Linked DNA regions of Homo sapiens: region 1 is linked to region 2. The links come from fine-mapping of genetic effects on gene expression. Tissue or cell type: fibroblasts. Region 2 holds a variant in brackets; the other region holds the start of a gene. All regions are shown on one strand. Distances are between the middles of the regions.

Region 1 (16,651 bases), 1.0 Mb after region 2:
ACTTAATTGTCAATGTCCTTCACCTCTTGGGCTAGCGCTCCCCTCCTGGTCATTCTCTATTAACCTATACACTGCTCTATTTCTATTCTTACATGGCAATTACATGGCATTACATATTTGTTTATTGACTCCCTGAACCCAGCTAGAATGCCTATAAGTGATGGTTACTATTTATTTGTTGAGTGAATAATTTTTCTAGTCCCTGGATCTAACACTCTAGATTTTGTGCAGGAGAAATCTACTGTGTTCGTGGTATCATCATCTCATTTAACACTACATATCAGATCAATACAATGGCTAATAACAAAGATAATAAGCCCAGAAATTCCCTTCAATTTAGTTTATCAAGCATTTATTAAGCACTCATCTTATTTCAGGTACCATACCAGGTGCTGGGGAAATAATATATAATAAGTCTACAGGAGTTTGGGATGGTTCTCATGTAACTAATCAATGAGGTACCCGTTTCCAACATCAGTTGGTTCATTTTGCAGTCCAATTTAATTCAGTGGGATCCTTATACCAAAGTAAGTTTTAGATGAATCAAAGATTTAAACATAAAAATCAAAATCATATAAAAACAGGAAATAAAAAGAGAGTTAAATAAAATCTTATAGTAGTAAGGTAGGAGATGAGCTGGGCTTGTTTTCTGAGCACCAAGGTCCCACTGATTGAAACAGAATCTTATCAAAACAAGATGCAGCAAAGAAACTGGCCACAACCAGCTAAAACCAAGATGGCAACAAAAGTGATCTCTAGTTGCCCTCACTGCTCATTATACATTAATTATAATGCAGTAGCATGCAAAAAAAAACTCCCAACAGTGGCATGACAGTTTACAAATGCCATGGCAACTCCTAGAAGTTACCTTATATGGTTTAAAAAAGGGAGGAACTCTCAGTTCTGGGAACCCTTCCTACTTTTCTGGAAAATGCATGAATAACCCACCCCTTATTTAGCATATAACCAGGGAATTGTATGTATACAGCTGGCCAACAATTCATGGGAGCTGCTGCTCCTACTCTGTCTATGGAGCAGCCATTTTCCTGTAGTTTGTTGCTCTGATAAACTTGCTTTAGCTTGTGAATCCTTTCCTGCATGAAGCCAAGAACTCTCCTGGGCTGAGCCCCAAATCTGGGCTTTCCCTGCATTAGTAGAGAAAACCTTTTAAAATACAAACCAAAACCCAAACATTTTACTACATAAATATAGCAAAACTAACATGGATGCAGCTGGAGGCTATTATTCTAAGCAAATTCATGAAAGTACAGAAAACCAAATACCACATATTTTCACTTATAAGTGGAAATTAAACAGTAGGTACTCATGGACATAAAGATGGCAACAACAGACACTGGGGACTACTAGAGGGGGGAGGGAAGAAAGGGGCAAGGGTTGAAAAACTAACTACTGGGTACTATGCTCACTACCCAGGTGATAGGATCATTCGTACCTCAAATCTCAGCATCATGCAATATAACCATGTGACAAACCCGCACATATATACCCTGGATCTAAAATAAAAGTTGAATTTTTTTAATAATAGATAAATAATAGTAAAAAAGCAAAAACCTCCTTCCCAAGTTCCCTTTACTCCAAAAGCCTATCATTAACAAAATCAAAAGTCTGGGGAAAAGTATATGCAATTCATACTTGATACAAATAACTAATTTCTTTAATGCACAAAGAGCTCCTAGAAATCAATAAGGAAAAGACCAACACTCCAACAGAAAAGTGACCAAAAATTATGAACAGCCAGTTCACGGAGAGAAAATGCAAAATGTTCACTTATAATGACAGAAATGCAAACTAAAACCACAATAAATTACCATTTTTCACTTAGATTGGCAAGGATCAGAAAGTCTGACAACAAGCTGTGTTAATGAAGGCATTGAGAAAAAAATCATTTATTGCTAGTGAGGCATAATTGATATAGCCTCTGTGAAGAGCAATACGTCAATATCTATCAAAATAAAAATGCAACTATCCTTTGACAAAAATAAGTCTAGTTCTAGGAGTTACTATACCTGCACATATTCAAAATGACATAAGCGTTGAGGATATTTGTGGTAGCATTGTTCATAATAACAAAATGTTGGAAGCAACTTAAATACCCATCAGTAGAGGACTGGTAAAAAAAATTATGCTATACCATACAATGAAACACTGTATAACTGCTAAAATGAATGAGGCAGCTCTGAATTAACATCTATGCTAAAATATGTTGTGAAGTGAAAAAAAGCAAGGTGCATTTATTTAATAAAAAGGAAGCTTATTTGCATATATGCTTGTGAGGCATACACTATCTCAGGAAACATCCAAGAAACGAGTGGTAACAGTGGTTGCTTCCCTGAAGGGAATTATCTGCCTGCAGATATGGGAAGGAGGAAGGCTTCCTTTCAACTTCATCACTTTTTAAAAACCTATCTGCATTTTACACTATGACAGACATGCATTACTATTTTAAGGTAACTGAACAGTTTAAAATTATTTTTTGGCCGGGCGCGGTGGCTCACACCTGTAATCCCAGCACTTTGGGAGGCCAAGGCAGGCGGATCACAAGGTCAGGAGATCGAGACCATCCTGGCGAACATGGTGAAACCCCGTCTCTACTAAAAATACAAAAATTAGCTGGGCGTGGTGGCACGCGCCTGTAGTTCCAGCTACTCGGGAGGTTGAGGCAGAAGAATCGCTTGAACCCGGAGGCGGAGGTTGCAGTGAGCAGAGATCGCTCCACTGCACTCCAGCCTGGCAACAGAGCAAGACTCCGTCTCAAAAAAATATATATATTTTAAGTCTAATTTAAGGCCGGTTCTCTTAAAAAGAGTATGGTGGCTGCCTCTTCTCCCCTTTATATTATATATGCTGAACGTTTCCGAAAAGTCATAATGCATATTATCAAGATGATTACTGTCCTGCAATGCAATTTTAAGTTTGGCTGTTTAGACTTTCTTAATACAATATTTATTGTTACTCTGTATGTTTCTACTTTTAACCTCTATTCTTCAAATTGCTCTTAAAACAAGTTAAAAAAATAAATTTTCAATTGTTCTGATTGCTTTATCTTTACCTGGAAAGACCTCTAAAAGGAAACGAAGGAAGAGAAAGGAGACCGAACACTGGAGCATTAAGAACCCAGGAAAAGAAAAAATGTCCGCAAAGTTTAAAAGAAATAAGTTATGGTAAAGGTGTTTTCTCAACCAAATGATCTGCAAGGAAAATTTCCAAATTCCTCTGCTCAACAAAAATTTCTTTAGTTTTTCTACAATAATGATTTCTTTTCAGTTTCCATACCTCCCCGAGGCCCCGCCCATTTATCAGGGAAACGGAGAAATGAGGAAGTCAGCCTGAAAGGGGGAGTACGCTCACTTAGCAGGAGACAGCTGAAAAGTAAAATACTTTTCAGTATTTTCCAGAGATCAAGCGAAAAACAAGACCTGGCGACGACGAAAGGAATGTCAGAGAGAAGAGGGAACAACTAGAGAACACAGACCACGAAGCTTTTCTCAAACACTGGCTTCTTCTTTTCAGCCGAGGTCACAGGAGAGGGCTCGGCTTTAGGCTCCACCCAGCTGCCTACACGTTCTGGGGGAGGGGCTTAGAACACTGAAGCTAAGACGCTTGATTTTTCTAGGAAAGAAAGATGTTGAAGGGCCACACATGAACAACTGAAGACTTCTAATCGTTCCACTAAAGTATGAGTGGTTTCCTAGAAGAAGGAAGGGTGATTCAGAAATATAAATACTGTGCAATAATTTGAAAATCAACTGTAAATCATTAAGATTACAATATAACATGTACAGAAATATTTCATTTAATACAACTAAAGGCTAACTGGCCATATAAGCAAAAACTATAAATTATATTATACCAGCTATAAACTATATTATACTATATTCCTGGGGAGGCATGTTCATAGCAGTTAACAATTGTGAAATTAGAACCATACTGCCTGGGTTCAAATCTCAACTCAGGCACTTGCCAGCTGTGTGATCTGTTCTGATCCTTGCTTAAACTTCTAACTTTGTATTCTTCCTGGTACTTTGCACATAGTACTGGGTGCTCAATGTCAATTGATCAACCAAATGAATGTTAGTGAAATGTCACTAATTTTCAATCTATACAACTTTAGGGGTTTTCTTTATTGCAGAAAAGTCATATAAAAACATTAAATGGTGGCTTGACAAGAGTTACACACAAACTACATACATTTCTGCTTGTCATTCCTTGTATTCAATTTATACTAATAGATACTTTTCATGAACATCCACTGAATTCTTTCATTCCTTCCATCAGATATTTAATCAACTCTGTGTTCCAGGTATTATGATGGAGCCTGGAGACAAACTACAAAACATGACAGATAATGCAGGAAGGAGCATGAAGTAAGTACTAAGGTGGCACCTACCTTGGGAGAAGTGGATAAAGAACTCAGGAGATGTGAAAAGGAGGAACATGAGAGGGGATCCTTTAAGGATAAGTGAAATCATCACAATTTTGTTTCCTAATGATGAAACTTATGTTGAAAATACTCCATTAAAATTCAACTACTAAAATCTTGTAACCACAAACACAAACGCAAAAACAAAAAACTATCATGATCATAATTATGATCATGTAAGCTAAAAAATTCGAGTGCAGACATAAAAGTTTTCACCTGAGATATTCACTTTATGTAAATACCACTCATCAGTTATAGCCAGAAGGTATTTGCTTCCATCCAGTTTGGGTGTAAGCGTAGAGTTAAGTCTATAATTATTTATTTGATGCCAAGTAGAAATACGACAATATACAAGGTTCAAATGTGGGAGAAGTTACAAGCAAGTCCTTGGAGAGTCAGTGAGATGTTTATGAAGAAAGAGTCATATACTGAACTTCAAAAACGAGTTGGACCTTGCACACTCAATTTTCCCTTAGCTATAACGTTTATACAAAAAGTTTTTGTGTAAACGTTATAGCTACTAAAAATCAGAACAAGTTCAATTATCACCAACTCAAAGCTGGATTAGACCTTTTCAATGATTATTAAGCTACACATCCATATTTAACAGCTAGTCTTTAGAGGAAGGGACCATCTCATTCTATTAACAGTGAGTATTGAGTAAGGCCTTCAGATGCCTAACTGCATATATTTGAATACATTTTTAAAATTTCTTAACACATATCGCTAAGGTTACTTTGTTTATATGACATTATGAGTACGGGACAACAAAACTCTTAAGCCGTTAAACAGAAAGCCAAATCAAGCTGCATCTATGACATGCCTGTTTAGTGAAACTTTACTTCAGTCCATAAAAATACAATTTATTAAAAGCACAAAACTAGTGGCTAGCTTCAAGTTAACATTTTTGTTGCTAGTGGTGAGATTTCCTCTAATGTTAAATGATTTTTTTTAAAAAAATACGTTTTAAGTCCAGACAAAATTAATTTTCAAAAATGAAAATTGTAATCTATCCACAAATGTAAGTTTTACCGTTTTGTTTTTTGCAAAAAAAAGTACCTTTTATCTTTCCTTATATTTGAGGAAACAAGCTTATCTTTGAAGAAGTAGCTGCTGAATTTGCAAGATCTTTTGAGTACTTCTAACTACACGCTTTATTACTACACAGTTAAATATTTAAACAACAGTTGTCTCCTTTGTCTAAAGACCCACAAAGACCGAGAAGGTACTTACCTTCTTGAGATGACCAAATCCAAACCTAGAACTCCTCCAGAGGTACAGCCTTGGTGGGAGATTCTGAAGACGCCAGTCTGGCTTCTATCCCTAGCCGCAGGAACCTGCATCTTTTACTTAGTCCAGAAAGGCTTAGTATATTAGTAACCCAAAGATAGTGAGGGCATTTAAACTGTGTATTTCATTCTCTACTCACGTTTGCATTTTGGTTTTTTGTTTGTTTGTTTGTTTGTTTTAAAGAGGTTGGGCCTCACTACCTGGAGACACTGTCCCACCAGTTTGGCCGCCGCGCCAAGCCGGTGGCTCAGCCCGCTGTCATCCAGGTTCTCACGACTCCTCCCATTGCTTGACAGCCAGCCAATAGCGTGCTAGGACTCTAGGACGCGCGATGGCGTAAGCTCCAACGCCCGCGTGATGACGCAAGAGGCGCCACCGTCTCCAAGGAGTGGTCCGGGGCACCGGTTTCAAAGTCGCAGGGCGGGCCGAGTGGACTTCCGCTGCTGGCCTGGGGCTTCCCAGCCGTCTTGGCGTTGTCCTCTCCAACCCCCGCCGCTCCGCGTAGAACGCCGCTCTCAGGCTGCCGTCAAGCTCCCGCGGCACTCTCCTAGGTGGCCCGACGAGACCCAGAGTGACCCGCGGGACGCCTGTATCGACCGCGTCCTCTTCCCACCAGCGTGGGATTCGGTTGAACGTGGAGTCCCCAGCAATCTTCAGTCTCTCACCAGGGCCAGGGACTCGTCTGGGGCGCGGGGGAAAGAAGCGTGGCGGGGCTGTAGATGCCGCGTGAGTAGGATGCAGATTGCACCGCTGGAGCGCTTGACAACCAACCGAGCGTTGGCTTAGTTTTGTTTTCCCGCACAGCAAGCTCTCTGTCTTTCAGAGGAAGGTAAAGGTGGTGAAAGCTCTAAACTAAAATTGTATCGAAATGGCTGCAGAAATCGACTTTCTGAGAGAGCAAAGTAAGCTCCATGTTTTTTTGAGACTTCATATACAATGTTTAATATCGTCGTCGTTGACCGACAAATCTTTTTTGAATGCTGGTTGGGTACATTTAAATTGGTAAAGAGTTAAAGAAGTTAGTTGCAGGAAAAAAAAAACCTTGATGTTATACGTGAGGATGTGTGTATATTTAAGCAGAACCGTGTGGTAGTACTTGTAGCTTACACAGAATTCTACTAGACGCTAAACATGTTTGTTATGCTCCTCTCGTGCTCTGAAGATTAGAAGGCTAATGGCCAGCAGGAGTTTCCAAGTGTGCATTTAAAATCTAGGGGCACAGCTCTCTGGCCATTTATTAAAAAGATGTTTATTGAACTCCTGTTTCTATTATGTACCAGACACTATGGAAGAACAGCTGCTGCAAAGATAAACAGGACAGTTTTTACCTCCAAGAATTTAATTTGGGGAGGGAAATGTATTCCAAAATATATTGAAGTGACAGCAACTGCTGGCTCTTTTGCCACAGTCTCATAGGGTTGTTGGAAAGATTAAATGAATATTAAAATATGTAAAGGATTTAGAATAGTATCTGATACATTGTGTTAAACAAATATTAACTATTACACGATTATTATTAAAATATGTTCAAGGAAGGTGCTATTGGGCTGAAACGTGCAGTACAAATATGAATTTACTATATGAAAAACTCTAGGCATCCCAAATAGAACAATATTTGTGACACTGAGGGGATTAGGAATATGCTTTGTTAAAGACTTGCAATACGGCTGGTTTGAGTGTAATATTGATGTAAATTGAATTGGAATATTTATATAGGGAAATGGCAAGTGCAGTTGAAGGCGTAGAAAGGGGCTGGATGGTGAAGGGCCCTGTCTTCTCTGTGCTAAGGAGTATGGACCATTGCATGGGTTATAGGAATTCAGTTGAGAGTGGCATGATCAAATTGTAGTTTAGAAGGCCCGGTCTGATTTTTACGGGGAATATGCATTATAGCAGAGTGCAGTTAGTTGTCTACTGTCATCATTCAGGTAAGAAGTAAACTAAGTTGGGCACAGGGAGACTGGAGATCAGGGGATTTGAGAGAAAGAGGTAGAGAGCAACTTAGTTTTTGCTTGAGCAACGGGGAAGTTAGGAAAAAGGTAGTAAGTTCCGTTTTGGTAGCATTATAGACCAGTGGTTAAGAACTCAGTCAGCCTCTGGATTTAGTCTGTCTGGGCTCACAGCCTACCTCTTTCCAGGTCTGTGACCTCGAGCAAGTTTCCTAGCTTTTCTGCACCTCAGTTTTCTCATTTATATAATGAGTATAAGAACACAAGAATCCTCTTGAAGTTGTGAGACTTAAATGAGATGATGAAAAAGCATTGAGCATAGTGTCTGGCACATATTAAGTGCATGGTATATGTTATCTAAAATAATTAATGACACTATAATGACACAATAACATTAGCATTATTTCTTAGGTTTGCAGTGGGAATATCCCCACCCCATAAGAACAGCTAACTGGCCACCGTAAGAGTAGTGTGGGACAGGAATTGGTTGATGAGGAGTTTGGCTAGAGTCAGGATAGTACTTGAGGTGGTCAGAAACTATTAATTTTATAAGAATGATCCAGCCAGAATTCTTAGATAAAACTGAGATCCAAATACCAGGGGAAAACAAATAAGACAACTGAAGCATAGTAACATTTTTTTAAAAATGAGTGGTATTTAATAGTTCCATGGAAGACAAGTGGAGTGCAAGAAGGAAATCTCAAGCAGAAGGAGCAGAAGAAGGAATGGTTCAAAGGCTTAAAATAACTGATTTTATTCAGGAAATCGGAGCATAGAATGGTAGCGTTTGCATGAAGAGATAAGAATGAGAGTTGAGTGTCTGTGTCGCTCTCCTTTTTTCTTTAACCGGATTTTGCATGCCATTTGAAGGTGGTGGGTTATTCCATTAAGTGACCCACCTAAATACCAGCCCAGATAAAGATAGATCACTTGCCTTCTTTCCACCTGCCTCTGACTTTTTCTACACTGATTTCTGTTGATCTTGATTGTCTCTTTGTTCCGTTTGGATTTGGGAGCCCAGGTCAAGACCATTTGTTTTGGTACTTCTCAACTCATGTTTTGGTACTTCTCAACTCATGTTTGGTACTTCTCAACTCTCATGTCCCCACATGACATTTCCTCTGATAATTACTATTTCAGCTTTACATATCATAACGACAGGCAGCTCCACACTCAACCAGGCTACTAGTAGAGTAAGCTTGTAGCATATTTGCTGTGCACCGTTCTTCCACCTTTGTCTGGGAAAGATCAGTTAGTTTTTAGGAACCTGTTCAAAGAGGTACTTGCATTATCAATCTAAGGAACTAAGAATTCATTCATTAGTGGGGTGTGAGACTCACTGGCAGAGTGGTGATGGACTTATTTTTTCTTTTCATTCTCTTAATAGTGTTGGAGCCAAACATTTTTAATTTTGATGAAATTTAATTCATCAATTTGTTCTTTTATGAATTGTGTTTTTGGTGTCATAAAAGAAATCATTGCCTAACCCAAGGCTGCAAAGATTTCTTCTATATTTTCTTCTAGGAGTTTTATAGTTTTAGGTTTTACATTTAGATCTATGGTTCATACAGTTAAATTTTATACAAGGGATGAGGTAAGGATCCAGGCCACTTTCTTGCATTGGATGCCCAAATGGAAAAACTACCCTTTCTCCATTGAATTACCTTTGCTCCTTTGCAGTTGTTTATATATGTATGGATCTATTAATGAACTCTATTCTTTTCCACTGATTTATTTGTCTGTCTGGACACCAGTACCCCACTGTCTTAATTATTGCAGCTTTATAGTAAGTTTTAAAATAAAATTGGTTCTTCTGTACATCATTGATGTATCTTTTTAAATTTTCTCAGCTATACTTTGTAGTTTTTAATATTTAGGTTTTGCACATCTTTTGTTAGATTTATGCCTATGTATTGAAATTTTTGATACTACTGTAAATGGTATTATTCTTTTACTTTCAGTTTCTGATTTTTCGTTGCTAGTATGTAGAAATAACATTTCTTTTTTATTATTATACTTTAAGTTCTGGGGTACATGTGCAGAACGTGCAGTTTTGTTACATAGGTATACTCATGCCATGGTGGTTTGCTGCACCCATCAACCCGTCACCTGCATTAGGTATTTCTCCTAATGCTATCCCTCCCTTAGTCCCCCACTCCCCAACAGGCCCCGGTGTGTGGTGTTCCCCTCCCTGTGTCCACGTGTTCTCCTTGTTCAGCTCCCACTTATGAGTGAGAATATGCGGTGTTTGGTGTTCTGTTCTTGTGATAGTTTGCTGAGAATGATGGTTTCCAGCTTCATCCATGTCCCAGCAAAGGACATGAACTTATATTTTTCTATGGCTGCATAATAGTCCATGGTGTATATGTGCCACATTTCCTTTATCCAGTCTATCATTGATGGACATTTGGGTTTGTTCCAAGTCTTTGCTGTTGTGAATAGTGCCGCATTAAACATACATGTGCATGTGTCTTTATGGTAGAATGATTTCTGATTATTTGGGTATATACCCAGTAATGGGATTGCTGGGTCAAATGGTATTTCTGGTTCTAGATCCTTGAGGAATCGCCACACTGTCTTCCACAATGGTTGAACTAATTTACACTCCCACCAACGGTGTAAAAGCAAAAGCATTCCTATTTCTCCACATCCTCTCCAGCATCTGTTGTTTCCTGACTTTTTGATGATTGCCATTCTAACTGGTGTGAGATGGTATCTCATTGTGGTTTTGATTTGCATTTCTCTAATAACCAGTGATGATGAGCATTTTTTCATGTGTTTGTTGGCTGCATAAATATATTCTTTTGAGAAGTGTTTGTTTATATCCTTTGCCCACTTTTTGATGGGATCGTTTGCTTTTCTCTTGTAAATTTGCTTAAGTTCTTTGTAGATTGTGGGTAGGATCTGACCTTTGTCAGATGGATAAATTGCAAAAATTTTCTTCCATTCTGTAGGTTGTCTGTTCATTCTGATGATGGTTTCTTTTGCTGTGTAGAAGCTCTTCAGTTTAATTAGACCCTATTTGTCAGTTTTGGCTTTTTTTGCCATTGCTTTTGGTGTTTTAGACATTAAGTCTTTGCCCATGCCTGTGTCCTGAATGGTATTGCCTAGGTTTTCTTCTAGGGTTTTTATAGTTTTAGGTCTTACATTTAAGTGTTTAATCCATCTTGAGTTGATTTTTGTATGAGGTGTAAGGAAAGGGTCCAGTTTCAGTTTTCTGCATATGGCTAGCCAGTTTTCCCAGCACCATTTATTAAATAGGGAATCTTTTCCCCATTGCTTGTTTGTGTCAGGTTTGTCAAAGATCAGATGGCTGTAGATGTGTGGTGAGAAATAACGTTCTTTAATATTCTGCTCTGCAGCCTTGCCAAACTCATTCATTAGCTCTAGTAGTTTTGTAGAGTCTGTCAGTAGTTTTATGTAGATAATCTTGTAATCTGAAAATAAAAAGTTTTATTTCTTTTCAATTTGGATGCCTTTCATTTCTTTTTCTCACCTTATTGCAGTGGCTAGAATCTCTGGTACAGTATTGAACAGAAGTGGTGGGAATACACATCCATATCCTGTTCCTGATCTTATGGGGAAGGCATTTGTCTTTCAGAATTAGGTATGATACTAGTTGTAGGTTTTTCATAGACGTTCTTATGTTGAGAATGTTCCTTTCTATTCTTAATTTGCTGAGAGTTTTTATCAAAATGGATGCTGGATTTTTAAAAATGCTGTTCTGCATCCATTGAGATTAAAAGATATTTTTTCATTTTTTGTTTGTTAATAGAGTAAATTACATTGATTAATTTCAAATGTTAAAACCACCTTGCCTTTCTGGGATAAATTCCACTTGCTCATGATGTATAATCCTTTTTCTATATTGTTGAATTTTATTTTATAAATGTTTGTTTAAAATTTTAGTGTGTTCAGCTTTTTTTTTTTCTTTTTGGGACGGGATCTTCCTCTATTGCCCAGGCTGGAGTGCAGTGGCACAATCACGGCTCTTTGCAGCCTCAACCTCCTGGGCTCAAGCGATCCTTCTGCCTCAGCCTCCTGAGAAGCTGGGACTACAGGCACATGCCACCATATCTGGCTAATTTTTTTTTCTTTTTGTAGAGATAGGGTCTCCCTATGTTTCCCAGGCTGGTCTTGAACTCCTGGGCTCAAGTGATCCTCTTGCCTCCCAAAGTGCTAGGATTATAGGCATGAGCTATCATGCCCAACCTATGAAGGTTTTTTGCTTTTCTTTTTTTTTCTTCCTTTTTTTTTTTTTTTTTTTAACTTGCGCAAGGGTCTCACTGTCACCCAGGCTGGAGTTAATGGTACACTAGTAGCTCACTACAACCTTGAACTCCTAGGCTGAAGCCCTCCACCTGCCTCACCCTCTTGAGTAGCTAGGACTACAGGCATGTGCCACTGCACCTGGCTAATATTTTTATTTTTTATTTTTTGTAGAAGCCGGGTCTCCCTTTGTCACCCAGGCTGGTCTTGAACTCCTGGCTTTAGGCAATCCTCCCACCTCAGCCTCTTAAAGTGCCTTTTTTTTTTTCCTTCCCAATATTTTTGTCTGGTTTTAGTATCAGGTAATGCCAGCCTCATAGAATTACTTGGAAAATATTTTGTACTCTTCAACTTTCTGTAAGAGTATGTATAAAATGATATTATTTCTTCCTTGAATATTTGATAGAATTCACCAGTGAAGCCAACTGGACCTGAAGTTTTCTTTGTGGAAAGGTTTTAAAATACAAACTTAATTTCTTTAATAAATAAAGAGCTATTCAGTACTCTGTATTGTACTCGAGAAGAACCTCTGCAGGTCTCACATTCCCTAGGGTTCTTTCTCTGTGCAGTCTTCTATCCTTTGTCCTGCCAATTCTAGTTCACTTAATCTCCACTACTTCTCAGCTCCACCTCTTAATAAGAGTCCAGTGGTCTCCACTTGCATTTCCTCCCCCCGTGTCATGGCCCTGGAAAGTCTCTTAAGTCATTAAGGTGGGGCAATCATAGGGCTTACCTCATTTGTTTCTTGTCTCTGATTATCATTGTCTGATGTCTAGTGTACTATAAGGTATTGATGATTTTTTTGCTTGCTTTTTCATGTGTGTCAGGCAGAAAAGTGGTCCATGTTATTTCTTCTTGAGTATAAGCAGAAGTCCTATTCAAGTTGCCCTACTTTTTGATGTCTTAAACTCAAGTATCTTACTCCTACTATAACTGTTCTTTGACCTCCTCATCCTTTGAGCCCTTCATTTTCTTTACCACCTTGACTGCTTCCCAGTTTGTTTTTACTGGTGTCTTTTACAGGCTGTAACCATTGCCCATTAGTCCTTCTGCGCTTGTCAGTAATCTTAATATGATTATACCCCTGCTTTTCTATAGCTGATGCCCAGTAACACCTCATGCCATGATTGGTTGGTTTGCCTTTACAGTTCTCATACCAAATGCTGTTTAGTACCTATAGATAGCTGAACCCTCTGGATAAGTGCCTTCACAAAGTCAAGGTTAACAGAGCTAGTAAGTGACTGAGCTGGGATTTGAACCCAGGCAGTCTAGTTTCAGTGTCTCTTTTCTTAACTGCTACACAAAAAGCATACTTGCAAGAAAGGAAAACTGTAAACCTGTTTCACTTATGCATGTTGGAACTAAAATCCAAAATAAAATATTAGTAAATTGAAACTAACAATGAATGTGTGTGTGTATATATATATATATATATATATACATACATACACCAGCATCTTCAGGTATCCAGGAAACGCAAATTAAACAAGCCAGATAAGTACTTGTAGAATGAAGGAAATAATAACATTTAAGTTACAGTAAAATTTTCTCCAGATTATAGTCAATCTATGAAGATTGAAAGTGTTTCCCTCATTATTAATACATAATTTACTTCTTATCCTATTTTAATTACTGAGGACACAGATCTAGTTTTTTTCTTAATTGAAAACTCTGTCAGGGAAAAAAAAAGAGGTTTGTATTGTGATTAATTTTTTGTTTTAAGTTTTTCTTTTTTTAAAATTTATCTTTTAAGTTCAGGGGTACATGTGCAGGTTTGTTATATAGGTAAACTTGTGTCATGGGCATTTGTTGTGCAGATTATTTTGTCACCCAGGTATTAAGCCTAATACCCATTAGTTGCTTGTCCTGATCCTCTCCCTCCTCCCACCCTTCACCCTCCAATAGGCCACCGTGTGTGTTGGTCCCCTCCATGTGTTCTCATCATTTACCTCCCACTTATAATTGAGAACATGCCGTACTTGGTTTTCTGTTCCTGCATTAGTTTGCTAAGGATAATGGTCTCCAGCTCCATCCATGTTCCTGCAAAGGAGATGATCTCGTTCTTCTTTATGGCTGCATAGTATTCCATGGTATACATGTACCACATTTTCTTTAGCCAGACCACCATTGATAGGCATTAAGGTTGATTTCATGTCTTTACTCTTGTGGATAGTGTTGCAATGGACATACATGCTCATGTGTCTTTGTGGTAGAATGATTTATATTCCTTTGGGTGTATACTCAGTAATGGGATTAAAGGGTCGAATGGTATTTCTGTCTTTAGGTGTTTGAGGAATCGCCACACTGTCTTCCACAATGGTTGAACTAATTTACATTCCCACCAAAATGTATAAATGTTCCTTTTTCTCCACAACTTCACCAGCATCTGTTATTTTTTGACTTTTTAATAATAGCCATTCTAACTGGTGTGAGGTAGTATCTCACTGTGGTTTTGATTTACATTTCTCTAATGATCAGTGATGTTGAGCTTTTTTTTGTATGCTTGCTGACCGCATATATGTCTTCTTTTAAAAGGTGTCTGTTCATGAGCTTTGCCCACTTTTTAATGGGATTTTTTTCTTGTAAATTTGTTCAAGTTCCTTATAGATGCTGACTATTAGACCTTTGTCAGATACACAGTTTGCAGAAATTTTCTCCCACTTTGCAGCATGTCTGTTCACTCTGTGGATAGTTTCCTTTGCTGTGCCAAAGCTCCTTATTTTAATTAGTTTCCATTTGTAATTTTTGCTTTTGTTGCAATTGCTTTTGGCATTTTTGTCATGAAACCTTTGCCTACTCCTGTGTCCAGATGGTGTTGCTTAGGTTGTCTTCCGGGGTTTTTATAGTTTGGGGTTTTACATTTAAGTCTTTAATTCGTCTTGAGTTATTATTTATATATTGTGTAAGCAAGGAGTCCAGTTTCAGTCTTTTTTCATATGGCTTGCCGGTTATCCGAGCACCATTTAAAGTAGGGAATTCTTTCCTCATTGCTTGTTTTTGTCAGGTTTGTTGAAGATCAGATAGTTGTAGGTATGTGGCCTTAATTCTGGGTTCACTATTATGTTCCATTGGCCTATGTGTCTGTTTTTTGCACCAGTACCATGCTGTTTTGGTTACTGTGGCCCTGTAGTGTAGTTCTAAGTTAGGAAACATGATGCCTCCAGGTGTGTTCTTTTTGCTTAGGATTGCTTTGGCTATTCAGTCTCTTTTTTGGTTTCATATGAATTTTAAAGTTTTTTCCAGAGAAACGTTTCATAGTTTTCTGTGTAGAGGTCTTAAACATCTTCTGTTGTATTTATTACTGGGCATTTATTTTTTTTTATGGTACTATAAATAGCATCTTTTACTGTTTTCTAACTTTATGCTGCCAGTATCTAGAAATATAATTAATTTTTATATATTGACCTTGTATCCAACAACTTTGTTAATCTTCATGATTGATTTTTAAGTATGTATCTGTGGTTTTTTTGGATTAATCACATATGCACTCATAACTATGAATAATGACAGTTGTTTCATCTTTTCCAGCCTTTGTGTCTTTTAGGTCTTTTACTTGCTTTACTGCATTAACTTAGACCTCCAATAGAGTGTTGAGTAAATGTCATAAGAATTTATCCTTATGTGATTCCTAATTCAAGGGAAAGTTTTCAACATTTTTACTCATGAGTATGATGTTTGTTGTGTATTTTACGTAAGCATTCATTATAATAACAGTGTTCCCTTCTAGTCTTACTTTGATAAGGCTTTATCATGAATATATCTTGAATTTCATCAGGTGCTTTTTTAAAATAACTTTTGAGATGATCATATTTCTTATCATTTTTTGTGAGTTTATTTTCAATTTCTTTATTTTCTGGGCTTATCTTTATTTACTCCACTTGGCTTTCTTTGGATTTAATTTGGTGCTGTTTTTCTAACTTCTTGGAATGCATTTGTAACTTCAGACTTTTTCTCTAGTATATGCAATTAAAGCTACAGATTTCTCTTTAAGCAAGTTTGGAGGTATCACATTTTCACTATTGTTCACTTCAAAATACTTTAAAATTTATTTTGTAATTCCTCCTGAGATCTTTCTTCTTTTTTTTTTCTGAGATAGAGTCTTGCTCTGTTGCCCAGGCTGGAGCGTAGTGCAATCATAGCTCACTGTAGCCTCAAAGTAGCCTCAAACTCCTAGGCTCCAGTGATTCTCCTACTTTGGCCTCCCAAAGCAGTGAGATTATAGGCATGAGCTACCATGCCTGGCCAAAAGTGATTTCTGAACTTCCAAACATATAGAGGATTTTCCTTTTTTTTTTTTTTTTTTGGTTCTTGATACTAACTTAATAGTGCTATTGTAAGATAACATACTGTCTTTGGTTTCAGTCCTTTGAACATTATTGAGACTTTCTTTTACCAGTGAATAATCAACATTAAATGTTCTGTGTGATCTTGAAAAGAACGTGTGATTGCAAATTTGTTGGGTACTATGTTGTATGTATGTTACTTTTCTTGATGTAAATAAAAGTATGGTCTTGTTATTTCTTTTTTTTCTTTTTCTTTTCTTCTTATTCTTTTTTTTTTTTTTTTTCAGAGTCTCACTCTGTCACCCAGGCTGGGGTGCAGTGGTGCGATCTTGGCTCACTGCAACTTCTGCCTCCCGGGTACAAGTTATTCTCCTGCCTCAGCCTCTCAAATAGCTGGGATTACAGGCGCATGCCACTAC
Region 2 (16,651 bases):
TCCATGAAACAAGTTATTTCTAGTGGGAACAGACTAATAAGGAAGTAAGCAATTATTTATTGTATCATTTCTATGACTAAGGCATACACAAATTGCTTGCAATTGGAATAGGGAAGAGCCATCTATTTTTTTTTTTTTTCCAGATGGAGTCTTGCTATTTGCGCAGGCTGGAATGCAATGGTGCGATCTCAGCTCACTGAAATCTCTCCCTCCCGGGTTCAAGTGATTCTCCTGCCTCAGCCTCCTGAGTAGCTGGGATGACAGATGCCCACATCATGACCAGCCAATTTTTGTATTTTTAGTAGAGTTGGGGTTTCACCATGTTGGCCAGGCTGGTCTTGAAGTCCTGACATTGTGATCCACCCACCTCAGCCTCCCAAAGTGCTGGGATTGCAGGCGTGAGCCACTCTGCCTGGCTGGGGAGAGCCATCTCTTCTAACATGAGGATGAGGTAAAGGTTATGGGTAAGGAGTTCCAAGGGAAATAACCCTGACAGAAAAAGATAAGAAGTAGCCAGACACATAAAGAGAAAGGAAGCCAGGAAAGACATCTCAAGCAAAATGATTAGCAAATAAAAATACATAGGATGAGTAAGAACCTCCAGAGTTTACTATAAGTGGTCAGGAATAGAGCAGGAGACATAAGCAAAGTTTCCATCATGAACCTTGGATTAATAAGGGGACTTTGATTACCATCAACAGCAACTGACTCTTACTGAAGGAAAAACAACAACAAAACTAATTGGAATCATTCCCTATATCTCTTAGAATCAAAGTAAAACCTGAGGACCTAATCCCCAGAAAGAATTTTGAAAGGTGAAAGGATTTAACTGGAGATAAAAAAAAATTACAAAAGAGGTTTTTTGACTTTTTAGTAGCAGCCATTCTGACTGGCATAAGATTATATCTCATTGTGGTTTTAATTTACATTCATGTGCCAAAGAGTTTATCCCACATTTTCTTCTAGGATTTTTATAGTTTTGGCTCTTCTGTTTAAGTTTTTATTCCATCTTGAGCTAAATTTTGTATATGGTGAGAGGTAGAGGTCCAGTTCTATTCTTCTGCAATACGGCAAGACAACTTTCCCAGCATCATTTATTGACTAGGGTTTCCTTTCCTGTTGTTCATTTTTGCTATGTCAAAGATCAGTTGGTTGTAGGTATGTGGCTTTATTTCTGGGTTCCTCATTCAATTCTACTGATCAGTGTGTCTATTTTTATACCAGTACCATGCTGATTTAGTTACTACAGCCTTGTAGTAAAATTCGAACTCAGGCAATGTTATGTCTCCCAATTTTTTACCTTTTGCTTAAAATGCCTTTGGCTATTCAGGCTCTTTTTTTTAGTTTTATGTGCATTTTAAGATTGTTTTTTCTACTTTTGTGAAAAATGACATGAGCAGTTTGATAGATATTGCACTGAATGTGTATATTGCTTTGGGAAGTGTGGTCATTTTAATGACAGATGTTGGTGTTGATATGGGGAAAAGAGAACATTTTGACATCATTGATGGGAATATAAATTACTACAACCTCTGTGGAAAACAGCATGGAGATTTCTCAAAGAACTCAAAACAGAGCTACCATTTTACCCAGCAATTCCACTACTGGATATCTACACAAAGTAAAAGTTATTGCTATATTAAAAAGACATCTACATTTGTATGTTTATCACAGCACTATTTACAATAGCAAAATCATGGAATCAACCTAATTGTCCATTAACAGTTGACTGGATAAAGAAAATGTGGTATATATACACCATGGAATACCATGAAGCCATTAAAAAAACACGAAAACTTGTCCTTTGCAGCAACATGGATGGAGCTGGAGGCCATTATTCCAAGTAACTAACTCAGAAACAGAAAAATCAAATACCACATCTTCTCACTTATAAGTGGGAACTAAGAAATAGGTACACATAGCCACAAAGATGAAAATAATAGACACTGGAAACTCCAAAAGTAGGAAAGGTGGAAGGGCTGTGAGAAAATTATCTGTCAGGTATAATGTTCACTATTTGGGTAATGGGTACACTAGAAGCCTCAATCCCCAACATTATGCAATATACCCATGTAACAAACATGCACATGTACCTCTGAGTCTAAAATAAAATATTTCAAAAAGGGGCTTAAGGGGAGATGGACGAGGGAGAATCTCAGTGAATAGAGCCCTCTGAATTAACCTATAGTAGCACATTCATCTCTCAGTTAAAAAAAAACCAAATTACAAAAGGTGAAAAGATTTCACCAGAGATAAAGGGTAGGAGCGTGGATTCCACAGCTCCAATTATTTTCCATTCTTCTGTTATTTTCCTCAAAATTTAAATTCCCAGAAGGTAAAGCATGATTTGACTAGTATTAGTGACACGGCCAAGCTAGTTCCCTAGCCCAAGGAAGCTACAAGCTTTGTAGAAGGAATAATCACGAAAGGAAAATCAAGGCACCATTACCATGGAAGTGAGGATTAATGTTGGCCCAATGAAAAGTACAGATTCCCTCCTTTGGAATTACCCCATAAAGTTTGCTTTTCTATCTCATAGGACTTGAGTCCCAACAAGACAGCCTACATTACAGAAGGTGCAAATAACAGGAGAAAAATCAAGGTGCTATTACCAGGCAAGTGAAAATTGATATCGGTGTTATGAAAACAGCAGAGATTCCCTCTTTTGTGGATACACTGCAAAGTTTGGGTTTCTATCCCTTGGGATTTGGGAAATAAACAAAGCACATGGTTCCTTTGTGTTTTAGAAAAATATCTGTGATGGCAGAATACACATAGCTTGCAAGCTGTCAGGATTCAATCAAGGACAAACCAACATAGCTAGTTTCCTTAATATATAAGTAAAAAGCATATGAAAATGTATTCTCATAGATGTGATCCAAATTCCTCATACATGGACATAATCTTTAAGGTAACTAGTTTCTTAAATTAGTTACCTTAAATGTTTGGCTATATAATATGCAGTTTATATACATATACGTGTGTGTGTGTGTTCCATTTTTTTGTTATGAGCCTTTGTTATGTGACATCAGGAACAAATTTTCAAGTTTTGCAATGAAAGACAGAAATGACGAATTAGGCAATGAGATAAAGTACTGCCTAAAAGTAGTGTTAAACAACGTGGTTATTTATCAGTCAAACTAGAGCTGCATTCAGAAGAAATGTAAACTGAGAAGAAAAGAGACATGAAATAAATCGAGGTATCAAATTTTCAAGTTATTGTGGTTATCATAAGGAATCATATGTACTATACTGCCTTTGTATTTAGAGCAAAAGTAAAACTGCAAACTACTCATATTTTTAAAAATCACTTTCGGTGGAGAGCATCATAAAAAGAAAACAATTTATTGCTGGCTTGTAAAAAGGTAAATTAGTTTCACTGAGTTAGGCAAAACCTTCCTGGTTGTCCAATCTAATTGCACACTCACTTAAAATCAATCCTAATATCTCAAACCAAGGCAAGGGCATGGTCACTATTCCCTTCATTTCTTCTTTGTTTCTGACACTTCTTTGAAAATTCATCCCATGTTTTCATTTCCTTGTGTTATTTTTAAGTTAAAGATAATTAGGGTTAGGATATGTCAAAACAGTAAAATCACAGATCTCTTAAATTTAATATTAATTAATGTATAAAATCTATTTCAGTAGCCAATTGGCTTATAATTGAATAATACTGTTTACTACAGTTTCTAAAGTTACTAGCTTTTTGTTGGCTGTTCAGGTTATTATTTCTTGATATATCCATATATATATTTTATATATATCTTGACGAATATATATATATATTTCTAGTAGGCTTTTTTATTCTTAAAAGTTTCTGCTTATAGAACTGCTGAACTCATAGAGACCAGATAACAAGTTATGTTTGAATTATTTATCAAATTATTTCAAATAAGCTAATAGGATGGAGGGGGAAAGAATGATTGGGGGGAGCTGTAGTCCTGAGAGTAAAAAGCATTACCATTTTTGTTTGTATAACAGGTGGTGCACCCATGCATATAAATAAACCATGCTCAGGAATCAGTTCATACAGCATGCTGCTGACCTGCTTTTCTATTTTAGATCCCACATCATGACTACAATAGTCAGGTGAAATCCATTTAGTCTCTGCACAGGTCCATAAAAATATATGTGTCTCTGTAAAACTACAATAAGAGTAAGTTGAAAATCCTTACCCATGAAATGAGAACTATGTCTATTTTACTGTACAGTTATTAAAGATGTAACTGTACACAATAAACTATAAAATGCTGATCTGAAGGTGGTTATGAGAGTAGTTTTTGTGTTGAATTGCTTCTACTGTTGCTTCTTCTTGTCTCTTTTTTATTCACATGTAAATAACTGTTCCAGACTTCTCTAATCTTAGCTCTTACTACATATACCTATTAAAGGTTTTTAATCTTTTAAGTCTGCAATTTCTTGAAGGTTGTTTTTAAAACAATTTTATTGCTAAAGGATACTTTATCTGTGCCAGGAACTTTCTGTTCATACAATGTCTTTTGCTGTTTCCTTTTGATATATTACAAGAAAACGTTATTTTTATCTTATTATCAGTAAAATAATCCAGCTCACTCCACCTCTCAGAGTTAGATTACACATGTTGGCTGAATACTTTAATAAGTCTCCTTTAATAACAGATGAAGAAATAATAAGTATTTCACAGTACTTTCATAAGTTTCCTTGGAGGCTGGGAGGCTGAGCTCCAAAAAATGGTAGATAGAAAATATTGTAAACTTGAGATTAAGCTATATTGCTCTGCATAAAAAAAGAGCGATTATAGTGGCTGGAAAATTGATGGAAAGTGGAGGGAAAGAAAGAAAGTTTATGCGACTTGAAACCATTGATATAAGTTTTTAAAAGAAGCCTCATTTAGTGTGTTTGTGTGTATTCGTGTGCACTTAGGAGTAAAATTTTATGAGCTGCACAACGCAAACTACCTAATTTTTTCCTATGACATACTTTGTTAAAAACCATGTAGATCAGTAATTGGCTTATGCAGAAATTTGTATTTTAGAGTAATTTAAGAACATCTGTGTTGTGCTTCAGAGTTGGAATGAGACAAAAATAAAAGCTGCCTTTGGGTGGACGGTCATATCTGGTTATTTATAAAAACAGAGCAGCACTTAGTGGCATTTCGCTTTAGATCACACTAACCAGGACACATCTTTCACTGTGACAGCCAAACTCTCAAATTCAGGGTTCTGAATTGAACAACGGTCCTTTGTATATAATCTGAATGTCATAAGAAAGTCAAGGAAATGACTCTGAATTCCTATATTAGTTCTGTGGAAGCCAGAGGAATGCATTGTTTATGATACAATGTTTCACAAAGCATTTGTCAGCTAACTTGGGAGTATCCAAAAAACTCTTAAGAAGTCACAGACTAGGTATTGGCCTTCAACTCTGCTTTGAAAAACTCAAAATTTCTTAAGATTTTTCAGTATTCATTCAAAAGACAGCTGTGCTTTGGTTGATTCTGTGATCTGTTTTTTTCATCTGCTAAAATACGATTATATGGTTAGTTAAGAATATTTTGAAACTGATGACAGAAACTATGCGCTACATTGAAGGAAATGTGCCAGATATGAGAGAAACTGAGTTGTGGTGAGAACGTGCCACTGTATGAGAGGTGTCAGGCAGCAGACAGAGAAGCAATGGCATTTAATACATTTTTTTCAGGGTTAGCCATTAGGATTACCTATGTTCTCAAATTCTCAAATGCCTCTGTCAATGTTGCTGACAGCTCTTGAATGGCTTTTCAGTAATGAGGACGTTACCAGTGACTTATATGTCAAGTTTCTTACTAGATATCAGCATCAGAGAGAGAGGACTTGCACATGCATGTTAAGTTGTGAGATTTAAAAAAACAAACAGGGAGCAATACGACAAGGTAAAGTACGGCAGAGTATGGGAAATCAGAGCAGGCAGCACAAGGCTGACATTGATGCATAAAAACTCTTTCTGAAGAAATCTAGAAGAACAGCCCATGCTGTCACAGACAGTAGTGACCCCTCAGATTCTTAGTATTAATAGAGCTATTTTGGAGGCTCAAAAGCATAGGGCAGCATTGGCTGCTCTCAGACAACAAAACTGAGCAGAAAGTTTTCAACTGGATACATCATTTCATGTAAGAGAGCTGCTGAGGTTGTGCTCCTGACAAATAGATCCCATCAACTCAGTGCAGCAGCTTCTCCACTTCCAGCGAGAAAGCTAGGAAGCTTGGGGTCCTTCAAACACAAAGACTACTTTGATTTTAGTGTGAATAACTTTGTCCCCAATGATGTCTGGAAGCTACACCTCACACACAAGGCCATAAAAGGTCTCAGTCATAGGGCAGATACAGTGGCTCACACCTGTAATCCCACCACTTTGGGAGGCTGAGGTGGGTGGATCACCTGTGGTCAGGAGTTTGAGACCAGACTGGCCTACATGGTGAAACCCTGTCTCTACTAAAAACACAAAATTAGCCGAATGTGGTGGTGCATGCCTGTTAATTCCAGCTACTTGGGCGGCTGAGTCAGGAGAATTGCTTGAACTTGGGAGGCAGAGGCTGCAGTGATCCGAAACTGTGCCATTACACTCCAGCCTGGACAATAAGAGCAAAACTCTGTCTCAAAGAAAAAAAAAAAAAAAAGTCTCAGTCATATCTAAGAGATTAAGAAAAATACATATACCAACAATGAGATGGGTGTGTTGTGTCCGGAATTGGTGGGTTCTTGGTCTCGCTAACTTCAAGAATGAAGCCGCGGACCCTCGCGGTCAGTATTACAGTTCTTAAAGATGGTGTGTCTGGAGTTTGTTCCTTCAGATGTTCAGATGTGTCTGGAGTTTCTTCCTTCTGGTGGGTTTGTGGTCTCGCTGACTTCAGGAGTTCAGCTGCAGACCTTCAGGGTGTTACAGCTCTTAAAGTCGGCGGGTCTGGATTTGTTCGTTCCTTCCAGTGGGTTCACAGTCTCACTTGCCTCAGGAGTGAAGCTGCAGACCTCCGCGGTGAGTGCTACAGTTCATAAAGATGGTGCAGACCCAGTGACCAGCAGCAATATTTATTGCGAACAGTGAAAAGAACAAAGCTTCCACACCACGCAAAGGGAGCCAGGAGGTTGCTGCTATTGGCGCTGGTGGCCTGCTTTTATTCCCTTATCTGGCCCCACCCACATCCTGCTGATTGGTCCATTGTACAGAGAGCCGATTGGTCCATTTTACAGAGAGCTGATTAGTCCGTTTTACAGAGAGTTGATTGGTCCATTTTGACAGAGCGCTGATTGGTGCATTTACAAACCTTTAGCTAGACTGGAAAGTTCTCCAAGTCCCCACCTGACCCAGGGGCCTAGCTGGCTTCACCTCTCAATGGCACTCACTGTAGGACTTTGCGGCACCTAGCCCTCCAGCAGCCCACAGGGAGCTTGTCTCCTGACCAAGCCCAGCAGGCGCCAGCTGGCTGTGCTCAGTGCCCTCCTCCCGACGAGCCTGTGCCCACCCGGAACCCCTGCTCGCCCACGGCACACGCAGCCCCAACTCCCGCCCCGCGCCACATCTCCCCGTGAGCAGAGGGAGCCGGCTCCGGCCTCGGCCAGCCCCAGAGAGGGGCCCTCACAGCGCAGAGGTGGGCTGAAAGGCTCCTCGAGCACTGCCAGAGCGGACAGCGAGGCCTAGGAGGCACGAGAGCGAGAGAGGGCTGCTAGCACGTTGTCACCTATCAATGTTATGTTTCATTGTTAAGGTGATTTTTGTATTTATTGCTCAGTGAGGAAATAACCAGCAGTAAAGGTGCTATAGTTTGAGTAATCCTGGTCACAAGAGTTAGGAGTTGAGGGGATGGAATAGATGAACGAACCGTTTCCCTCCCAAAGACCCTGGATGCAATGCCATCTGCTGACAATATTGAATCTCTCTTTTGGTGTCAGGAACATAGGGAAAACCCTTATTCTTCATTTGGAGGAACTATGGAAAAAAACCAGGTTATGCATTCCTCCAGCTCACCTAAGCGACTTGCACATTCTAATGTTGCTGACTCTGGCCATCAAGAGTTATTTATTCATAAGGCGTCAAAGAAAATCTTGAAGCCTTCACTGATAGTGAAGAGAAAATCTCCCACCTGGCTAGGGTGGGGTGAAGAAGGTGCACAGAAGGAAAAGAAAGAAATTTACTCAATATTTAAATAAGTGAGATGAAGTAAGTAACACTTCCATAGGGGCCACTGAACAATGACTTAGACCCACATTCATAAAATAAGGAGCAAAGGAAGAGGGACAGGAAGCACTAAGTCTGGAGAGGGGCACAGCTACATGTGAGTATTTTCATTAGCATCA[T/C]CTCAGTGAGAATGTGTTCCATTTTGCAAGAGGTTAAAAACATTTGCTCACCGAAAGCTGGAACAATATGATTAAAAATCCAATTTTTAATCAGCTTATAGAAGGGTCTACCATAGTACTGGACACTGTGATGCATACCCAAATCCCTTTTCTTCAGGACAAAAGCATTCATCCCCCCAGATACTGATAATGGTAATGGTTGAAAGCCCAGAGCTAAGCCCCTCCTCCTGATAGTTGCTCTTGAATGAAGAAAGTCCCCTTATCCAAAGTCATATTATTTGTTTGGCATTGTCACATCCATATGTGAGAACACAGAACATGCATTACTTTTGCTGGAAGCAGAAGTGCTTCTTTCAACTATCTCATCTCTGGCTTTACTGTCAGCTTTGCAATCAACCTTTATAATTTGTTATGGATCTCTTGGTATTGTCATCTGGCTTTTTCAAGGTTGCCTAATTGGAGCAACTGGAGGAAGAAAGGAAGAAAGAAAAAAGCGAGGGTTTTTTTTTTTTTTTTTTTTTTTTTTTGTATTTGTCAATATCCCCCATCGATAGTGGCCCTTTCACGACCTTCCAACACATTTACAATCAATTCCCTGAGTTAAACTTTATTCTGTTTGAAATATCTATAATATAGTAGTTTTTATTTTTCTGAATGGATGTTGACTCAAAGTACTAAATATTCAGAGGGGATGGAAAAGCAATTATTTATGAGGTTAACTATCTTCCAAAAAGGCATTTGGTCTATTAGTGGATCTTGACTTTTTGTGACATTGTTGAAGTTTCCAATTTACCATCCTCAAAGAAATCACTTCACTTCTGAGTTGTTGTTTCCTCCGGTGTAAAATGAAGGGCTTAGACTTCCTATCCTTTAAGATGTTTTTTAACTTTAAATTTTATGAATCCAGAGAAAATGAAAGTATTGAATTCTCACTAATCCCTAAATTTTTTCATGTGTAAACATCAGACTCAAGAACCAATGGTAGAAAGATCAGATAGCAAAGGATTTACAAGTATAATTATTTGGGGGATGCTTGATATTTTAACGCATTTCAGCAAACAATATATCACACTATAAGTAATAAGAAATCCAGAAATGAACCATATTTTAAAGGTAACATAAAGTACTTTACAAATTCGGTCATAAGGGACTGCCACTTGTTTGTCACAAAAAGTAAAATGTAAGCTGTGCATTCTTTCCTGAAAGTCTAAAGCTAACAGAGTGTAGTACTGACACTACATTCTAAGACATTCCAAAAAGTCTTTCCTGAAAGTCTGAAGCTAACAGAGTATAGTACTGACAATATATTCTAAGACATTCCAAACAGACAAGTAATCTTGCAATAAACAGAAAATGGATCACTTGTCATAGTCAGTAACTGATGCAACTAATAATCAAGACATACATAGATGTCTTTTCATAGAAATGCCCTGCTATGTGAGTGTTAGCAACTGGAATATTAATATCTCAAAAAATACTATTGCTGTCATTTAAAGACATAGCAAAATGTGACTTAAATCTGAAATCTGTTTGGCATAGGTGTATTTTAGAGTCATAGAAGCTGTTGAGATCATGCTCACAGTTATATATCTAGTGAGAAATAATTTTTAGCTGTATAAATACAAGGTTTTACCCTCATCAACTATCTTTTGTCCAAACCATAATCATGCAAAATTACTGGTAGTGAGAGCTTTTGTTACTGGCATCCACAGAGTAATTTATAATGTTAGAAAGGCCTTTGCCATTTTCCTAATTGACGTTCTAAGTCGGGATTGCATTTGGATCTATCATTGTCACTTGGTTGTCACAGAGTCCAACATAAGCTGTGCATTTTAAATATAATTGCTATATATGCTGTTTCTTATGTTTCAGCAAAGCAGCAAACACACTTTTGAATTCATCATATGTCACGACAATGCATTCAAACCTTCAAATTAGTATTCAGAATTGGAGTGAATTATCTTGGAACTAAACAAAACAACCTTAAATAGAGGAAGTGGTATTACCTTAAAATGAATTGATCTTCAGTTTTATTTGAAAGCTGGCCATCAATCCATGCTAATTCTTATTTAAGCCATATCATACAAATTTTGAAATAAAGACTGTTTATAAAATATGAGGTTTTTAATAGTTGTTTCCTCAAATATTATCAACTATTGAACAACCTTTGCTGAGTATAGATAGAATGGAACTCTTTTAAATAATATGCAAAACTCAATTGTCACATATAATGCATTCTAAAATAATTCGAACTACATTAGAATATGAACAAACCATGCATAAAAATCACATATGTGCCTGTAATTCCAGCACTTTGGGAAGCCAAAGCAGGTGGATCGCATGAGTTCAGGAGTTCGAGACAAGCCTGGACACCATGACAAAACCCAATCTCTACAAAAAATAGAAAAATTAGCTGGGTGTGGTGGCACGTTCCTGTAGTCCCAGCTACCTGGGAAGCTGAGGTAAGACGATTGCTTGAGCTCAGGAGGCAGAGGCTGCAGTGAGCTGAGATTGCACCACTGCCCCTCCAGCCTCGGTGACAGAGCAAGACCCTGTCTCAAAAAAAAAAAAAAAAAACCACGTTAGGCATATAATTGGCATATTTACACATCACAAAATCTCCTACGTTTATCTTCCAATAAATTCTGAGTTCTAGAAACTAATTTTATATAAACTATAATGAAATATTCTGTTATATAATATACCTTATAGGCAAGATAAAAAAATTTATATCTCAGTGTATTAGTTATATATTACTAAAAAATTATTCCAATACCCATGGTACAATTTCTGATCATAAAATTATGTATTTAAAGAGGTATGTATACTTATTCAAGTGAATGAAACATTATTAGTCTACCTTGCTATGGAAACAAATTACATATTTTAATCTCAACAATTTATCAGAAATGGATCCAGTATAATATTTAGCAACAATGAATAAAACATTAAAGATATGTGTATAAAATATATGCAGACAAAATCTACTGAAGTATTGTTTTCAAATGTGCAAAATAGTTGATAAAACCTGCTCAAATGTTTGAAAAAAAGAAGTTTGAGGCCTAAAAACATTAGATCAAAGATAATAAATCATTTGTTTCTGGTTGTTAATTTGTATTAGCATATATGGGTTAAAGCCACAGTTATTTGAAGACGTTTCATAATGTGTTGTCTACAGATTTTCTCTAGGATCAAAATCTAACTTAAGAGCTTGACATTCCAGTAACAAGAAAACCCTATTCAGAAAGAAGGAGCAGGTCACAGAGCATAAAAGACAAAGCAAGGGGGCCTAAGAGGGGGTCCTCCAGTGCTCACTTTCCTCCTACCTCATTTCAAAACCCATAATTTTTCTCTGTACAAAGCCAAATGCTTTTTGGAAGTTTGCAGTTTAGCAGACTCATTTGTGAAGTAATTGTTTTCTTCAGCCTAACTAAAGCATATACTCTGTTGATGTTGAAAGATATGCTGTTTCCTATTATAAAATTTCTGTAACATGAGAAAGATATAGAATATATTTGTTTTTATTTACAGTGTAAATTTCTTTGCCTAAGAACTAAACAAAAGATTATGGTGTTTAAATTTCATTCTCTATTTCCTTTGAGGCTTTTCCCTTTGAAGATGTAACATCCATCCTCTCACCAGTATTTTTATTGTATAATTTGGGACTCTATTATATAGTAATATTTTTTCAATTATTTTGTCAACATCAGGCCCCAGTAAAACGGGACAGTTTCACCACCTTGTTCCGTTGCCTCCTTCATTTTACCTTCATGGAGGAAGACTGCTCTTTATCTGTCAAGTTCAAGGATTCAGATTAGGATTCAGAGCCTATGGAATGATGGTTATTATTGGAACTTCATATTCTCTAAGGTCTGAAGACATAACCAGGGTCTTAGACTACAGCCACTTCATGAAAGCACATTCACCTCTCTGTCTTTGTCACTTCCCCCCCGCCCCCCTCCTCTGACCATGCTCTGTCCCATGCGGCTGGGACACTCAGATGAACAGCTAGACTGCACTTCTGCTCAGGAGATGCCTCGTGAGAATGCTCAGAAGAAAGGCACTAGCCATGGAGCTGCTCTCTAGCCATAGGATTCTCTTGATCTTTTGTTTAACTTTTATCTGTAGATTTTTATTATCTTTCTTTCCTGCTAGAGCGATAGGATTCGTGTTTATTTTAGTTTGTGAGCTGAGAAGCCAACAAAAATTGAACCATTCAGTCTGCTTTGGTTCTAAGCCCTGGCTTGTTTTGAACCTAGGTAAAAAGAGTTCTCTAGATGTTTCCATCTACCTCACCACACGCTGCACAGAATTTGCTGGCCTGGCACACTGTTCTTCATGGTAATTGCTTTCTGAACTCCAGAAATGGGTACTTTTTAAAGGACAAGATTGTAGGCTTTTGATGTCTCCCTTTCTCCTTTCCTATTTTTCTTTCTCTGTTTTATAAATTTATGGCATTTATATTTATGTAAATATACTATATGTGTTTTATATATTTATATAAATATGCCTGCTATATTTAAATTGATCTATACATAAAAATGTAGATAGACAAAGATATAAATTAGATATAGATACAGCCCTTTTAAACAAATATTATCACATGTTCAAGAAGTTGAAGGCTTTGAATAGTGATAAATAGGATTCATATTAGTAGGCATCACAATATTTAAACATGTAAGGACATAAGTAGATATGAAATCTCATGTCTACTTTAACAAATGTAAATGTAAACAAAGAATATTTCAAAACCATAACAGCCATTGTATACTCATCATGCAAAGTAGATTGGGAAAAGATTATCCGTCAAGATGAGAACAAAGCACTCAGGATGGATTACTAAACCTCATGTAGAAACTAATGATGATGAAAGAGATCAACTGAAAACGTTTGACAATATGGTTTTCAGCTCAAGACTGCACTTAGGTACCCCCACCATAAAACTTTTCCCAGTGTTCTTCTCAGCAGAATTTGGAAACTCCCTTGACTTTGGAGCCTTCTTTTTGAAACTTCTTTTTGTTTTATATTAATCTAAGTAAACTATTTAGAGTCAGGATATCTTTGAACTATAATTTCTTCCTTGGAAATAGTGTAAAGATATCCACATATGTGTTGCTTAATAAATTATTTTTTTGAAGAATACCATTATTACTCACAATTACTTGAATAAAACAGATTTATGCCAATGGATCTTCAGAACAAAAAAATTAAAAAAAAAAAAACAGATTCATTCGTTCAACAATACTTATGAAGTGCCAGACACTGTTTAGACACTTGGGATATATGACTGAATTAAATATACAAGAATTCATTGTTCATATAGCTTACATTTCAGTAAGAAAGACAGATAATAAACAATAATCATAAAGATTTAATAAAACTAGGTTAAAATATGACAAGTGCAATGGAGAAAAGAAAAACCAGGAGAAGTTAAAGACCATGGAGAAGTGGGGACCTGGGTGTGGGGAGAAGAGACCACTCATGTAATGTCAGTCAAGGTAATAACCAACAGGAGGCAATGAACTTTTTGCCATGTGTAAATAGTGATGCAAATTTGGCAAATATACAAATTCCAGCTTTTTGGTTAACATAGAAACCACAGAAATGGCTGAAACAATAGCATGAAACCATTTGGTGTGAATAGTTTCAAATTAGAAAACTGAAGCAGAATTCCAGAATATAAAGGGTTTTTTTAAAATAAGAAAACTATAGCAAATGAGTATTCTACACTTTCCCCAAAATAGAAACTGAAGAGCAGACTGCTGTGCTGTTTTTCTAAGAAAGCTGACTACTATTATATCCCCCAATCACATGCCAGCTGAGCAATTTGTTTGTAGAAAAAAAAATTAGTGAATTTAATGCTTAGCAATCACCCATGGCAAAATCTTTTTGTTGTTGTTTTCTTTAAAAATGTCTTCACTATAAAAGAAAACACAATGCTATAATGCAGAGAAAATCTTAGAGTTAAATTTAAGATTATTACTGAAGATATCTTTTGAAGATGCCATTTAGTACAGGCTTAACAAATTGTTTTTTACTGAAAGCTCTTTGGTACAATTGAATGACTTTCCTTCTCCAATGCAACCATCAACTGCTTAAATCAATACTGAAGAAATTATTCTGTACAACACCACCTGGGCTACAGAGAGTAATTTTTCAATTATAGAACCATACATATTAGACACAATACAGAAAATATATACTAAGTGGGAAACAGATGTCCAGAAATCTGCCTCTGATTGGAGCACTAAACAGAGCAGAGAAATGGACTTTCAACTGCACATTACGTTGTGAAGGGGCTCACAGGCCCACAACATGGCAAAAAATTAAAGAGAACTTGGGGGAATAAATCTCTGTGTCTCTACTAGGGAACAGGAAACCAATGAGCTTTGACTGATAGGGCTGTGATTGTTGCATGATTTTGTGTGTAAATATGCCAAAAGATTGCTCAGCTGCCATAAAGCAGCATGTATAATAATGAGAGAATGTTAAAGAAGTTCATCATATTGAAAGTGTAATTTCATAGCAGAAAAGAGTTCTAGACAAAAATAAAAATATCTAGGATGACTTTCTCAACAAACTCTCTGGTCAACAAACAGTGAAGTCTTGGATTGTAACTATCTTTGATAAGAGGATTCTTATTAGATGACCTCTAGGATCTCTTATGTCTTGTAGAATCTATGATTATATAACATAACTTTTATATATGCATCTACAAAACAAACAACTTACAAATGCATCTACAGAACAAATGATTCCAGAGAAATAAAGTATTTTTAAACTGATGAATAAATAAATACCAATTAATTAGGCCCACTTTTTAAACTTGATCTTGTGTCTTTTTTAGAATTTAGCAGTTTATACACTATTATTTACTACTGCAAGAAGTGTCCAAGCATTTGAATGTTTGACAATAATAAGCGTTCCATGCTGATCATGACTCTGATTGTAATATATATTGTTATGGGGAAATTTGATTATTATATTTGCAACAAATGAAAAAAATGTGATTAAATAAAATCCTTTTAAAATTGCTATTGTTCGTTAAAAAAGAAAAGTAGAACAGAAATAAAATTGTATATTTAGTTCATTCCATAAAAATATTAGATGATTCTCCAGGGATGCAGAGAAATAGAATATTATAGTGTCTTTGCATTTGTTTTGTCATGTCTTTGCTTCTGTTTTCATATGTGTAAGGTTGGGTGGATAAGAGTGACTTCACATGTAGCTATAATAAGACCATTAGAAAGAATAAGTAAGAATACATATTAGCATGGGAAACTGTCATAATTAATGAATTTTCATTAAAATTGCTGTAGGCCATATTCTTTTTGAAAGTTACAATGTGACAGTCCTAAAGCCATTCTTTGATACAGTACAAGTTAGACATGAGAATTAGAGACTAAGTTGATTAGTCTCTTATTAACACACTGTGTTACACATTATTATTATTATTTATCACTCAAATTAACTTTCTCCACATTTATATGTATATTTAAAATGTTCTTATTAATACTTCTAATATAATCTAAGAATTAACATATTAATGCAAATTATTTAAAATAATTATATAAAAGTATGTATAATCATAAAACAAATGTAAGTATAATAATATATAAAATATTCCAATCATGAGTTTTGAAAAAGTAATAGAAAAAAGAAATTAACTAAAAACAGTTATCTCACTGCTACCATCACTTATATTCATGAACATCACATTATCACTTAACTTTTCAGAGCCCTTACAAAATTTTAACTTTTATTCCACAAATGCTGCCATTCTTAAAGTTCAGTGTTATTTACTATATTGAAGCATTCACAATCAACCAAGTACTGAAATTTTCTAATAACCGAATGACATTTCATTTAACCTTTTTAAATAAAATAGCATATAGAATTTATTTCCTTGAATTGATATACAAGGTGGGGCTAATCTTTACTTGAGCCAACAACCCAGAGATAATAATGTGACATATCAGATGCTTTATTAATAAAAATATTAGTTTACTATTGGGGAATATGAAGCCATGCCTTTTTTCAAAACAGTGTTCAATATTCAATTAAACATTACTAAAAACACATAACATGGTTACTTACTCAGCTAAAAAAGTTCTTATAAACTCTTCTTAGTTCTCAGCCAAAAATAAATACCTTAAAAATATTCAGCTTAATCATCAGGATATCATTGTGAGTATCCATAAAAGAAAAACATTGAATTAGTAAGACTATATTTAGATTCTATAACTAAAATTAATGTTCACCTATTAATCATGAGATTTGAGATTAATGCATTTTCTTATAGATTATTTTTACTTTGCCATAGAATAACTTGTGGTAGACCA

What was found. PIP is the estimated chance that this variant, and not a neighbour inherited with it, causes the effect.
Region 1: it holds the start of C4orf33, and the variant in region 2 is fine-mapped to the expression of C4orf33 in fibroblasts (GTEx, PIP 0.96).

Annotation. Positions count from the first base shown.
Region 1 is chr4:129,083,052-129,099,702 of GRCh38, reverse strand. C4orf33 (chromosome 4 open reading frame 33) reads right to left here and starts at 3,551. Exons shown (of 6, transcript NM_001099783.2): 1 at 3,494-3,551. It overlaps SCLT1 (sodium channel and clathrin linker 1), which reads left to right and starts at 6,164. Exons shown (of 21, transcript NM_144643.4): 1 at 6,164-6,633. The coding sequence starts at 6,600. RefSeq lists an enhancer at 5,900-6,469.
Region 2 is chr4:130,081,462-130,098,112 of GRCh38, reverse strand. No RefSeq gene overlaps it. Among named protein-coding and RNA genes, the nearest start is that of LINC02479, 290 kb to the left of the region's middle. The variant T/C (reference allele first, on the strand shown) is at 8,310.